Regions from separate parts of the Homo sapiens genome. Here region 1 is linked to region 2. The links come from fine-mapping of genetic effects on gene expression. A gene starts in region 2. The other region holds a variant in brackets. All regions are shown on one strand. Distances are between the middles of the regions.

Region 1 (5,375 bases), 35 kb after region 2:
TCTGCTCTGATGGTACCTGTATGTCTGACCTGCAAAAGGCTGGAAAGAGGAGCTTTGTGGAAAGAGTTCCCTTAGCCTTTGATAGTCGGTTTTTGAAGGAAAAAGACTATGAGGAGCTCCTACTTCAAGAGATAAAAATAGCAAGCAGGAATCGATCTGGGCTTCCTCTCCTACACTGGATGATAATGCCTGACGGGCATCACCATTGTTGCTGATTTTCTTTGAATGAGTCATTTTCCCAGCACATCTAGTGGGGAACATGTCTCTTTGGTTAACCACTGTATCCTGGCGCTTCTGTAAATATTGAATGCATGAGTCAGAAACTGTACACATATGACTATCGCTCCACCAACTTTTTGTTATTTCCCTAAGCTTGTTCAGGTATGGAGATGTGTGTCTGCACTTTTGTACAGTGGCCTTGCCCTCAGGGAGCTTGCTTATCATCTTTTAGGGAAGATACACTCATCAGCCAAGTAAGTGTATGTAACACAAAGTGATGTACGTAACAAAAGAGTCAAGAGTGCCGTGGGATTTACAGCAAGGGAACTTCATCTGAGCTTGAGAAGCTGGGAGTAAGAGGTTTCATCGGAAAGTGATTGCCCACAGAAGTAGGGGTGTTCGTCATGTGCAAAGGGCCTGTGGCAAGTAAAAGAAACCCTGTGTGGCCAGAGAGTAAGAATAGGAGGAGAAAACATGCTGCAGATGTAGGCGGGGCCCAGATTGTAGACAGCATAGAAATAATTTTGGGCTTTTCCTGTTAAATTCCTCTAGCTTCTAGGATACATTTTTTTTAACTTTTGTCTTTGAGATAATTTTAGATTTACAGAAGAGTTGCAAAAAGAGTAGAGAGAGTTCCTGTACACCCTTCACCCAGCTTCCTCTACTGCTAACATCTTACATAATCATAGTTTCAACCTGAGAAATTAGCATGGGGTACAGTCCTATTAATGAAACCCCAGGCTTTATTCAGATTTCACCAGGTTTTCAGTAACATCCTTTATCTGTTTCAGAATTTAGTTGTCATGTTTTCCTTAGTCTCCTTCAATTTCCACACACTGAACATGACATTTTACCCTTTACTAGTTCAGTATATCCCAAAAATAAGGATAAGAAACAAGTTATCACACCAAAAAAATTAAAAACAATTCTCTATATTGTCTACTTCCTAGTCCTTTTTGTTCTTAAGGTATCATTTATGGCTATTTTTTCCATCAAGGTTGCAATCAAATTTCATACATTGCATTTAGTTATTGATTCTCTTTAGTTAGCTTTATTCTAGAACTGCACTATGCAGTATGGTAGCACTAGTCCACCTGGCTATTTAAAATTAAATTAATTGAAATTAAGAATTCAGTTCCTCAGTCACACTAACTACATTTCAAGTACTCAATAGCCACATGTAACTCATGGCTACTGTATTGGACAGCACAGATATAGAACACTTTTATCCCCATGGAAAGTTATACCGGACATCTCTGTTCTAGAATATTTCTCTTCCACCCAACCCCCTGATGCTGACTTTTCATAAAATGAGGACAATTGTGTTTTGGAGCAGGATTTCTCAACTTCAGTACCATGGACTTTGTCGTGGGGGGTCCTGTGCACTGTAGGATGTTTAGCAGCATCAGTAGGTGCCAGAAGCAGCTCCCAGTGGCCACTGAAAATGGCGCCAGACATTTGCAAATGCCCCTTGGGAGGCAAAATCACCCTTGGCCAAGAACCACTGGTTTAGGTCACTTTGTATTCTGTTTTAGTTAAAGGACTTAGGAAATTAAAAAAGATGGACATTAGTGTATTCTGTATTGATAGTATAACAGCATGTATTCAATGAAGTTTGATGAATGAGTGAATGGATATTGAGTGTGTGTTGAGGAGTAGATGAAACTGTTGCTACCAGAAGCTCACAGGTGCCTAACCCTGAATTTCCCCCAGGAGCAGTGGTTCAGTATTGACTAATTCAGTGTTCATGGCGACTCTAGAGAACATAACTATCATGAATAACAAAAAACAACTCTTTATTTGTTTGCTTTTAAACATCAACTCAGAGTGTGACCTGGGTCTGAGGGACAATTTGGGCAAGTGCAAAGGCGTTAGCTCCCTCTCCCTTTCCCACCATCGAATGCAGCGGAGGAGGAGTGGGACATGATGGCTGTGGGCTGGAGCTTTCGCAGTCCAGGCTTGGGTTGGAATCCTGCCTGCCTACATACTGTTCGTGTGGCCCTGCGTGTTGCCTAACTTCAGTGTCTTGTGCTTTCATCAGTGAAATAGGGGAAATAACTGTCCCTCTCTCACAGACTTTCGAGCACAGAATGACATAGTAAATGTAAAACATTTAACTGATCTGTGGCACAGAGTAAGTACTCAGCAAGATTCATTTCTGTGGTCGCTCCCAGCCAGGCCTTGTTTATTTTTTATTTTTATTTTTTTGAGATGGAGTTTCAC[G/A]CTTGTTGCCCACCCAGGCTGGAGCGCAATGGCGCAATCTTGGCTCACTGCAACCTCTGCCTCCCGGGTTCAAGCAATTCTCCTGCCTCAGCCTCCCAAGTAGCAGGGATTACAAGCATGCACCGCCACTCCAATCTAATTTTGTATTTTTAGTGGAGATGGGGTTTCTCCGTGTTGGTCAGGCTGGTCTCAAATTCCCAACCTCAGGTGATCTGCCCACCTCGGCCTCCCAAAGTGCTGCGATTACAGGTGTGAGCCACCGCACCCGGCCAGGCCTTGTTTATTTTTAAAGCCATTATTTGGAAATGATCTTCAGAATCTACAGTGTACGGGTTCTACAGCAGCTGCTTTCCCATCCATGATTTCATTAATCCTCCCAGTATATGGCAACTAAGATTTCTGTTATGCTGTATGGTATTTTAGTTACAAAGACGTACATGACTCAAACTATGAATGATAAATATCAAACTTGGTTCATGTCAGAACCTAGTGTTGAGGGAGGGGCACATAGAAGACTTCAACTGAATTGTTTTCTTTCTGAAGCTGGGTGGTGAGTGCACAGGTATTTGTTGCATTAGTTTTTATACCTTTTGTTTGTTAATGTATTTTATTAGACACATTTCCAAAAGTGGTCAATGAGTGTTTATTTTAGTAGGTTAGAAAGTGCAGTGGGCGTGGTGGCTCACGCCTGTAATCCCAACACTTTGGGAGGCCAACATGAGTGGATCACTTGAGGTCAGGAGTTTGAGACCAGCCTGGCCAACATAGTGAAACCCCATCTCTACTAAAAATACAAAAATTAGCCGGGCATGGTGGCACGCCCTGTAGTCCCAACTACCGGGGAGGCTGAGGCAGGAGAATCACTTGAACCCAGGAGGGAGAGGTTGCACTGAACTGAGATCATGCCACTGCACTCCAGCCTGGGCAACAGAGCGAGACTCCTTCTCAAAAAAAAAAAAAAAAAAGTGTAAAGAGCAAAAATTCCTTCTTTCTCCTACCCTCCAGAAATAGTCACTGTTGGCTTTTTGGTGGGGATTTAGACAGTGAATATATGTTTATGTGTATGTTTATATATATGTTCTTAAATAAAATTGAGATCACATTATACCTATTTGTAACTGGATGTCCACTTCCTATGCTCTTCCGTGTACTTTATGGGCTGTACAGCATTTCATGTTGAGTGCACCATACTTATTTAACCAATTGCCTTTTGATGGACATTTTGGCTGCCACCCCCATTATAAATGTGCTGTAATGAACACCTTTTTATATCACTATGTGTGCCTGTTAGCACTTCTGTCTGATGGAGTAACAGAAGCAGGATTACTGTTACACATGTGAGAATTGAAGTCTATCACAAAAATGTCTTCCTACAAATTAGTTCTATCAGTGCTAGACGTAAGTGCCCTCCTCTAGATACTGCACCAGTTCTGGGTCTTCTAAATTTATGACAGGCTGAGTCAAAACAGAGTATCTCACTTTTCTTTTCTTTCATTTCATTTCAATTTAATTTTATTATTTGTCATCAATTTGTGACAGGGTCTCGCTCTGTTGCCCAGGCTGGATGGAATGCAGTGACATGATGATGGCTCACTGTAGCCTCCACCTTCAAGCAATCCTCCTGCCTTAGCCTCCCAAGTAGCTAGGACCACAGGCACACACCACATTGCCTGGCTAATTTTTTTTTTTTTTCTGTGGAGATGGGGTCCCACTATGTTGCCCACGCTGGTCTTGAACTCCTGGGCTCAAGCAGTCCTCCCATCTTGGCCTCCCAAAGTGCTAGGATTACTGGTACAAGCCACTGTGCTCAGCCTCACTTTTAAAATATGCATTTTTTTGTTTCTGAGATTGTTTTTCTCTGTTAGTTATCTGCATTTCTTCTTTCCGTGAATTACCTATTCCCATCCTTTGTGCATTTTTGTATTTTTTTCTCATTGATTTATCAAGGTCTTTATGATGCTGCTTCCTAACATTGTATATATACTGCTTCACAATTTATAAAGCACTTTTCCTATGTGTAATAACACTCGATCCAGTTCTGAGTTGCATTTTGTGGTCTCAGAATAGTTAGCCTAACCTGCCTTCAGTCTTCCTGCTAGTGAGAGGAGTCTGGACTCCCACCCAGATTTCCAGATCCTAAAATGAATGTTCCTTTTGCTACACTGCAGTTTGCAATTTCCATCTTCCAAATCCAGGAGTATTTTGGGAAGGTTTTGTTTTTCTGACGTCTGTTCCACAAGAGCAGAGCTCATGAATGGCCATGATTTAATTCCCCAAGTCTCTGCTGGAGCCTTCCCAGCTGTCATGAGGTTGAGTATGGCTTTATCATCATGAAACAAGTCATCAGAGTCTTTGAATCTTGCGTAGGAATTGGAAGTCGGGGTATACCAGGATAGGTTTTCAGCACCAGGTGTGGCACTCACCCTCCGGTATGCTTGGCAGAGTTTGTGAAGCGGCTCCGGTACTGCGAATACCTAGGGAAGTATTTCTGTGACTGCTGCCACTCATATGCAGAGTCGTGCATCCCTGCCCGAATCCTGATGATGTGGGACTTCAAGAAGTACTACGTCAGCAATTTCTCCAAACAGCTGCTCGACAGCATATGGCACCAGCCCATTTTCAATTTGCTGAGCATCGGCCAAAGCCTGTATGCGAAAGCCAAGGAGCTGGACAGAGTGAAGGTGAGCCGCAGCCCCAACCCCATCCCTCTCATTGGAAGTGTCCTGTGGCAGGAAATGCACATCACACTAGCTTGGGGAACCCACAGATACATCCTCTAAGAGGCAAATGGATCATAAAGCGAGTGAAGCGGCTGGGCGCAGGGGCTCACACCTGTAATCCCAGCACTTTGAGAGGCCAAGGTGGGCGGATTGCCTGAGGTCAGGAGTTCGAGACTAGCCTGGCCAACATGGTGAAATCCCATCTCTACTAGA
Region 2 (5,375 bases):
TTAAGTCAGGCAAGGAGGAAGAGAAACAGCCAAGCCAAATGCAGCTTTCCTCGGTTCTTTCCTTCCCTGGTGCTTGTCTGGGCTTCTCTCCCATGCAAAATCATCAGTCTTTCTTCCTGGGACTTCTATGTGGTGAAGATGCCATTAGGCACCCTCTGGTAGCTTATAATGCAGTTCATTTCATCTCATTTCCTTCCTGTTTTGTACAGAGACTGGTTTCCCCTTTGCTGACTGTCAGCTGAGTTCAAAACTGGGGTCAAAGCTCTGCTCACAGCACAAATCACTTCTTGTGAAGCCTGGCTGGGTTTTGGCAGGCAGCTGCTAGGCTTTCGGTCTTTTATGAGGCTATCCTGGCCACAATGGAGCTTTGTGTGTGATCAATGGGTGCTGGGCATGAGCCCGGCTGGGCTAGCTGACACAGTGAGTTGTCCCTGACACTCATGACTTTCAAGCCCTGTGTCTTGGAGGGCACTGTGATCTGGAAGTTCACCTTCCCCATGAAAAAACCCAAACCAGCCTCTCCTTTTCCTGCATGGTGATCCGTCTGTAATGATCAGTGACATTCTCAGAATTAACCAATCAGGAAATTCTTGGAAAGTCCACGCCTCAGCATTTAGTGCTTGGGAAATTCTACTTCCAGATCCCAGAGGGGACAGAGCAGATTTCCAGTGAGCATTCCTAACTTGAAAAACCTGTCCTTGAATGTTTCTCCTTAGTCCTAGAGATGCTCTTTCAGAATGTGAACCTCCTGCGTCTGTGACGAGATGTAGAAGGTCTATACTCAGAGTTAGTAGGATGTCCACGTGATAGTGCCTAGGCCTGCCTTATGGCAGTTTTGAGAAAGGTGATTTCAGAGTGGCTTCAGAGGGGATGACTAAAGCCCACAATCTTGGTCCAAAATATCCTAATCTCCCTACAAAAACGATTTTCTTGCCTTGGACTATGTCCAGTCTGCCAACTAGTACAGCTGTTTCTGGTTTTTGACTCACTGATTTACCTGGCATGACATTTCCTCTTGTTTCAAGATTCTTTCTCTAAGTTCCTCCTGACTCCTCTTTCCCTTTAAGTATTCCTGAAACTGGCTCTTGCCTGGTCCCTTTATTTCATTATTCTTCCATCTTGCTGGTAGTATGGTGGAAATTGGACATAGGGTTTGGTGTCAGATACACCTGCCTTCAAAGCCTAACTGTGCTACCTATTAGCTCTGTGACCTTGGGCAAGTTATTTGAACCTAAGTCATAGATTTCCCCCTTGCGAAATGGGAACAAATGATTTGTTATTCTCAGGGATGTTCACAGACTTGCTTAAAATAATAAGAAAAAGTACCTGGCACATAGCCGATACTCAAAAAATGTTAGCACACACCCACACCTTTTTCTTTCTGATTCATTTAAGGTAAGCCCTTCCCAATCGGCCTTCAGCTGACCTGAATTCCTGGGATACTGTATTTGGAATTTTAAATATTCCAAATATCCAGAGTTCTTGCAGGTCAAAGCTGGTCTATGCTCCAAACAGGCTGCCCCCAAGGGAAGCAGGGTAATTGGCAGCTAGTATTCATCTGACTTTTGTCATATTGATTCAATATTTTATCTGAAGATGGCAGCAACTAGTACATGGTGCCACCGTTTAGCCACTCCATGCCAGAGGTACCAGGCAAGTAAAAGCCAAATTACCAGTGCCTCTGCTCCATCCTGGAAATGACAAAGGACAAAGCCAAGGAACCCAGGAAAGTGCAACGGGATTTGGTTTTATGCAGCAGGGAATCTTCTAAGAAAGCCAGGACCGGTTCACCTACGTGTCATTACCAGTGCAGGCAGCTCAGAGGTCCTTCCCCGGGAGAAGTCAGGGCACCGCGAGAGAGAGCTTAGCTTCCTTCCTTCCTCCATCCCTCCCTCCCTTCCTTCTGGGACTTAGGTTCCTTCCTTCCTTCCTTCCTTTCTACTTTTCTTTCCTTCCTTCCTTCCTTGGCTTTGGTTCCTTCCTTCCTTCTACCTTCCTTCCTTCCTTCTTTCCTTCCTTCCTGGGCTTAGGTTCCTTCCTTCCTTGGCTTAGATTCCTTCCTTCCTTCGCCCTTCCTTCCTTCCTTTCTTTGCTTTCCTTCCTTCCTTCCTTCCTTGGCTTAGGTTCCTTCCTTCCTTCCTTCCTTCTTCCCTCCCTCCCTCCCTTGGGTTCCTTCCTGCCTGCCTGCCTGCCTTCCTCCCTCCCTCCCTCCTTCCCTTCTTCTCCTTTCTGTTTTTTTTTTTTTTTTTTTTTGACAGTCTTGCTCTGTCGCCCAGGCTGGAGTGCAATGGCGCGATCTCGGCTTACTGCAACCTCCGCCTCCCGGGTTGCTCCTGCTTCAGCCTCCCTAGTAGCCGGCATAACAGGCACCCGCCACCACGCTCGGCTAATTTTTATATTTTTAGTAGAGACAGGCTTTCACCATGTTGGCCAGGCTGGTCTCGAACTCCTAACCTCAAGTGATCCATCCGACTTGGCCTCCCAAAGTAGGTGCTGGGATCACAGGCTTGAACCACCGCACCCGGCCAGAGCTTAGGTTTCTATTCGTGACAACTTTCTGTATTGGTTGGCAGGTTCTCCTAGCACCACCATGATCTCAGGACTAACCACTGCACACCCGTGATGGGATTCCAAACCTTCGCTGCAAGAGGACAAGGTGACGAGTTGCTGACAGTGAAGGCTAAACTAACGCGGACAGTGAAGTGCTACATGAGTCGGACTCAGACTCCAGGTGAAGCAGCCAGCAGAGGTCAGAGAGAGACAGCTCACGTTCCGGGTAAGTTGCAGGTCGATTTCAGGGCCGACTCATCCAGATTACTCATTCTTCATTTCAGGCAATTGTATGACTGCTAAATACTGCTGCTGGGGGCATCTGGGGTTGGGAAGTCATTTCTGCCAGGTCTTTGACCCCTGAAAGCGTCGTTGCGTCTCGCGCCGCGGGTAGGCAGGGCGGGATTTCTAGGAGGACCGGCAGAGGCGCGCATAGGTGCGTGGTGCTGGGCCCGGGCGCCGCGGCACCGGTGTAGGAGCGCGCATCTCCAGAGTTTCTTCCATCTGGGCGACGTCTCGGTGCCTGCGGCGGGAACGGCGCTTTGCTTCCCTGAGGAGCTTCTAGAGAGCTACGGTGGCCCCCGTGTGGGAGGCGGGGGGCGTGGCGGCGTCGGGGCGTCGCTGTCCCCTCCTCGGTAGCTCTCCTCCCTCCCCTTTCTGCTGTTACCGGGAGCGCGGTGGCCACGGAACGCTGCCCGGAGCCGCGCGAGGGAGGACCCGACGCGCGGCGTTTACCCAGCGCAGCGTTCCACCGCTCGGGTTTGGCTGGGTGAGGCTGGCGGGGCCGGGGGCGAGATGGGAGCGGCGCGGGGTGGAGAGGGTGGTTGGAGAAAGGGAAGGGAGGGCCGCGGGAGAGGTTGGATGGTGGAAGTGGCGCCAGAGAGGTTTGTGCCCAGCAGAGACACCCAGGTATCTTAGGGTCGCTCAGAGCAGTGTCGGGGACCCCTTGGAGACAGTAGGAAGGGGCTCCTCGCGGGGTGGCGGATTTCTATCCGGTTGACTTTGTAGAGTGAGGTTGACCCTGTGTTCGGCTTGGGCCGGGAAGGGCGCAGAAGCGGGACCTCAGGACACTTTTACGCAGGGCGATTCTCAGAGACTACAAAGCCTGCGCCCTGCGTCCTCCCAGGCGCAGTGTTCTGGGATCAGTGTCTTTTCTCTGTTTTCGTCCTCAACACAGCCAAAGTCGTGGATATGTGGTGACAGAAAAACATTTGGCTACATAACTGAGCTAGGCTGGAGTGTGAAATCGCGGCGTGTTATTTGGTCCGGGCGCCCTACATAGCAACCCCCACTCTTCTCGCCCCCAACCCCCCGCCACGCCGGACACGGTCAGGCGGGCGTTCCCCCAACCCGCCCCTTGTGAAGTCCACCTGCTGAGACTGATACAGATCCCCTGCGAACTTGATGCTGTCCGCTTGGAAAACGTGGAGAACTTTCAGAGGAGGGGTTATTTCGCCTTGAGTGAAAATTAAGACTCAAAGGAAAAGGTATACTCAAGAGCTGCCCTTACTGGGTTATTTCTGTGGAATTTGGAAGGATCTTTGAATTGAAGATGTGGTGGGAGCGCGCAGAGAACAGAGAATCCGTAAGCTTGAGTTTCTTAGACCCAGTTTCTTAAAGCCAAAGTAGCGGGGAGATCTTGGCAAGTCAAGAAACCTTCTTGAACTTCAGTTCCCTTGCCTCAGGGGGAGAATACTCCAGCCATACCCCACTGTGTGGTTTAGAAGGTTAATGGCCTGGAGGGAGGGAAGTGTTTTGAAGCCTATAAAGTATCCTGTGAAGGTATCACCACATTGCTGCCCACTGAAACACTGCCGGCCGCCGACAGAACTTTGTTTGGAGCCGAGTTAAGACAGCATCTTTATGGCAGTGCTGGGGTTTTCGTGATTACCGGTCCAGAGTGTCAGGACACCTCTGTTTCTCAAACCCCAGTTTCTGCACTGCCACATGAAACTGCTCATTACTGAGTGACAGCAGAGGACAGGAACTTTGCCTTCTTCATTAACTTCTTTAGGGCCTTTACAAAGTGGGAGATGGTAGGAACTTTGATGAAAATTGAGGGTCATAGCCTTGGAGCGGGGTGAGGGGTTAGATTTGACTGGACATAGTCTTCATGCAACCGTTTAACAACAAAAACATTGTTGGCTGAGTTCTTGTTTTTTGATACAAGGAACATTCTGTCGGAGCCAAGGTTAAACATCCAAGAGTAAACGTTTGTTGGTTTTTTTTTTTTTTTGCATGATCTTTAGAGGATAAGTAAAAAACTAAAGAAAGGCTGCATTGCTTGCTGACACATTTTTTCCCCACCCATCTGAAGGCACACAAATAATAGCACTGGCAAATTTGAATAGTTTCCCTTGTTACCAAATCTACGTTCTTATTTCTAATATGGAACGATTATTTCTAGTATGGAGAGAAATATGGAATTTCTAATATGGAAGATTTAGCATGGTGTGTCATTGTAAAAATTTAGGCAGTTCTTGGATAAGTATGTCCAGCCTTCCAGAGACTATAAGTGTAGTAATATTAGTGCCTGTTAGTCATATTGTGTATCTTCCTGATACCCAATTAGATCTCTGATTGTTTTTTCTTTTTAATTAAAAGGAGCTGAAAGATGACTCAGTTAAGAAGCTGGAAAATAAAACCAGGTCTCTGTAACTGTGCTGTCTTATTCTGAACTGAAAGTCTTTCTGCAATAATAATGATGGTGATAATAAAGCTAACCTTCATAGGACATTGTGTACCAGACTGATACACGTGCTACAATTCTGTTCGTTCTCACACCATCCTTCATGGGGGAGGTTAAGAGCATTGCTCAAAATCAC

What was found.
Region 1: its variant is fine-mapped to the expression of RUBCNL in whole blood (TOPMed, PIP above 0.99).

Annotation. Positions count from the first base shown.
Region 1 is chr13:46,349,861-46,355,235 of GRCh38, reverse strand. It overlaps RUBCNL (rubicon like autophagy enhancer), which reads left to right. Exons shown (of 15, transcript NM_025113.5): 11 at 4,885-5,123. Among named protein-coding and RNA genes, the nearest start is that of RUBCNL, 35 kb to the left of the region's middle. The variant G/A (reference allele first, on the strand shown) is at 2,443.
Region 2 is chr13:46,385,078-46,390,452 of GRCh38, reverse strand. RUBCNL (rubicon like autophagy enhancer) reads left to right here and starts at 3,201. Exons shown (of 15, transcript NM_025113.5): 1 at 3,201-3,319. RefSeq lists enhancers at 1-201, 522-661, 2,425-2,534, 2,555-2,654, 2,685-2,964 and 1 more.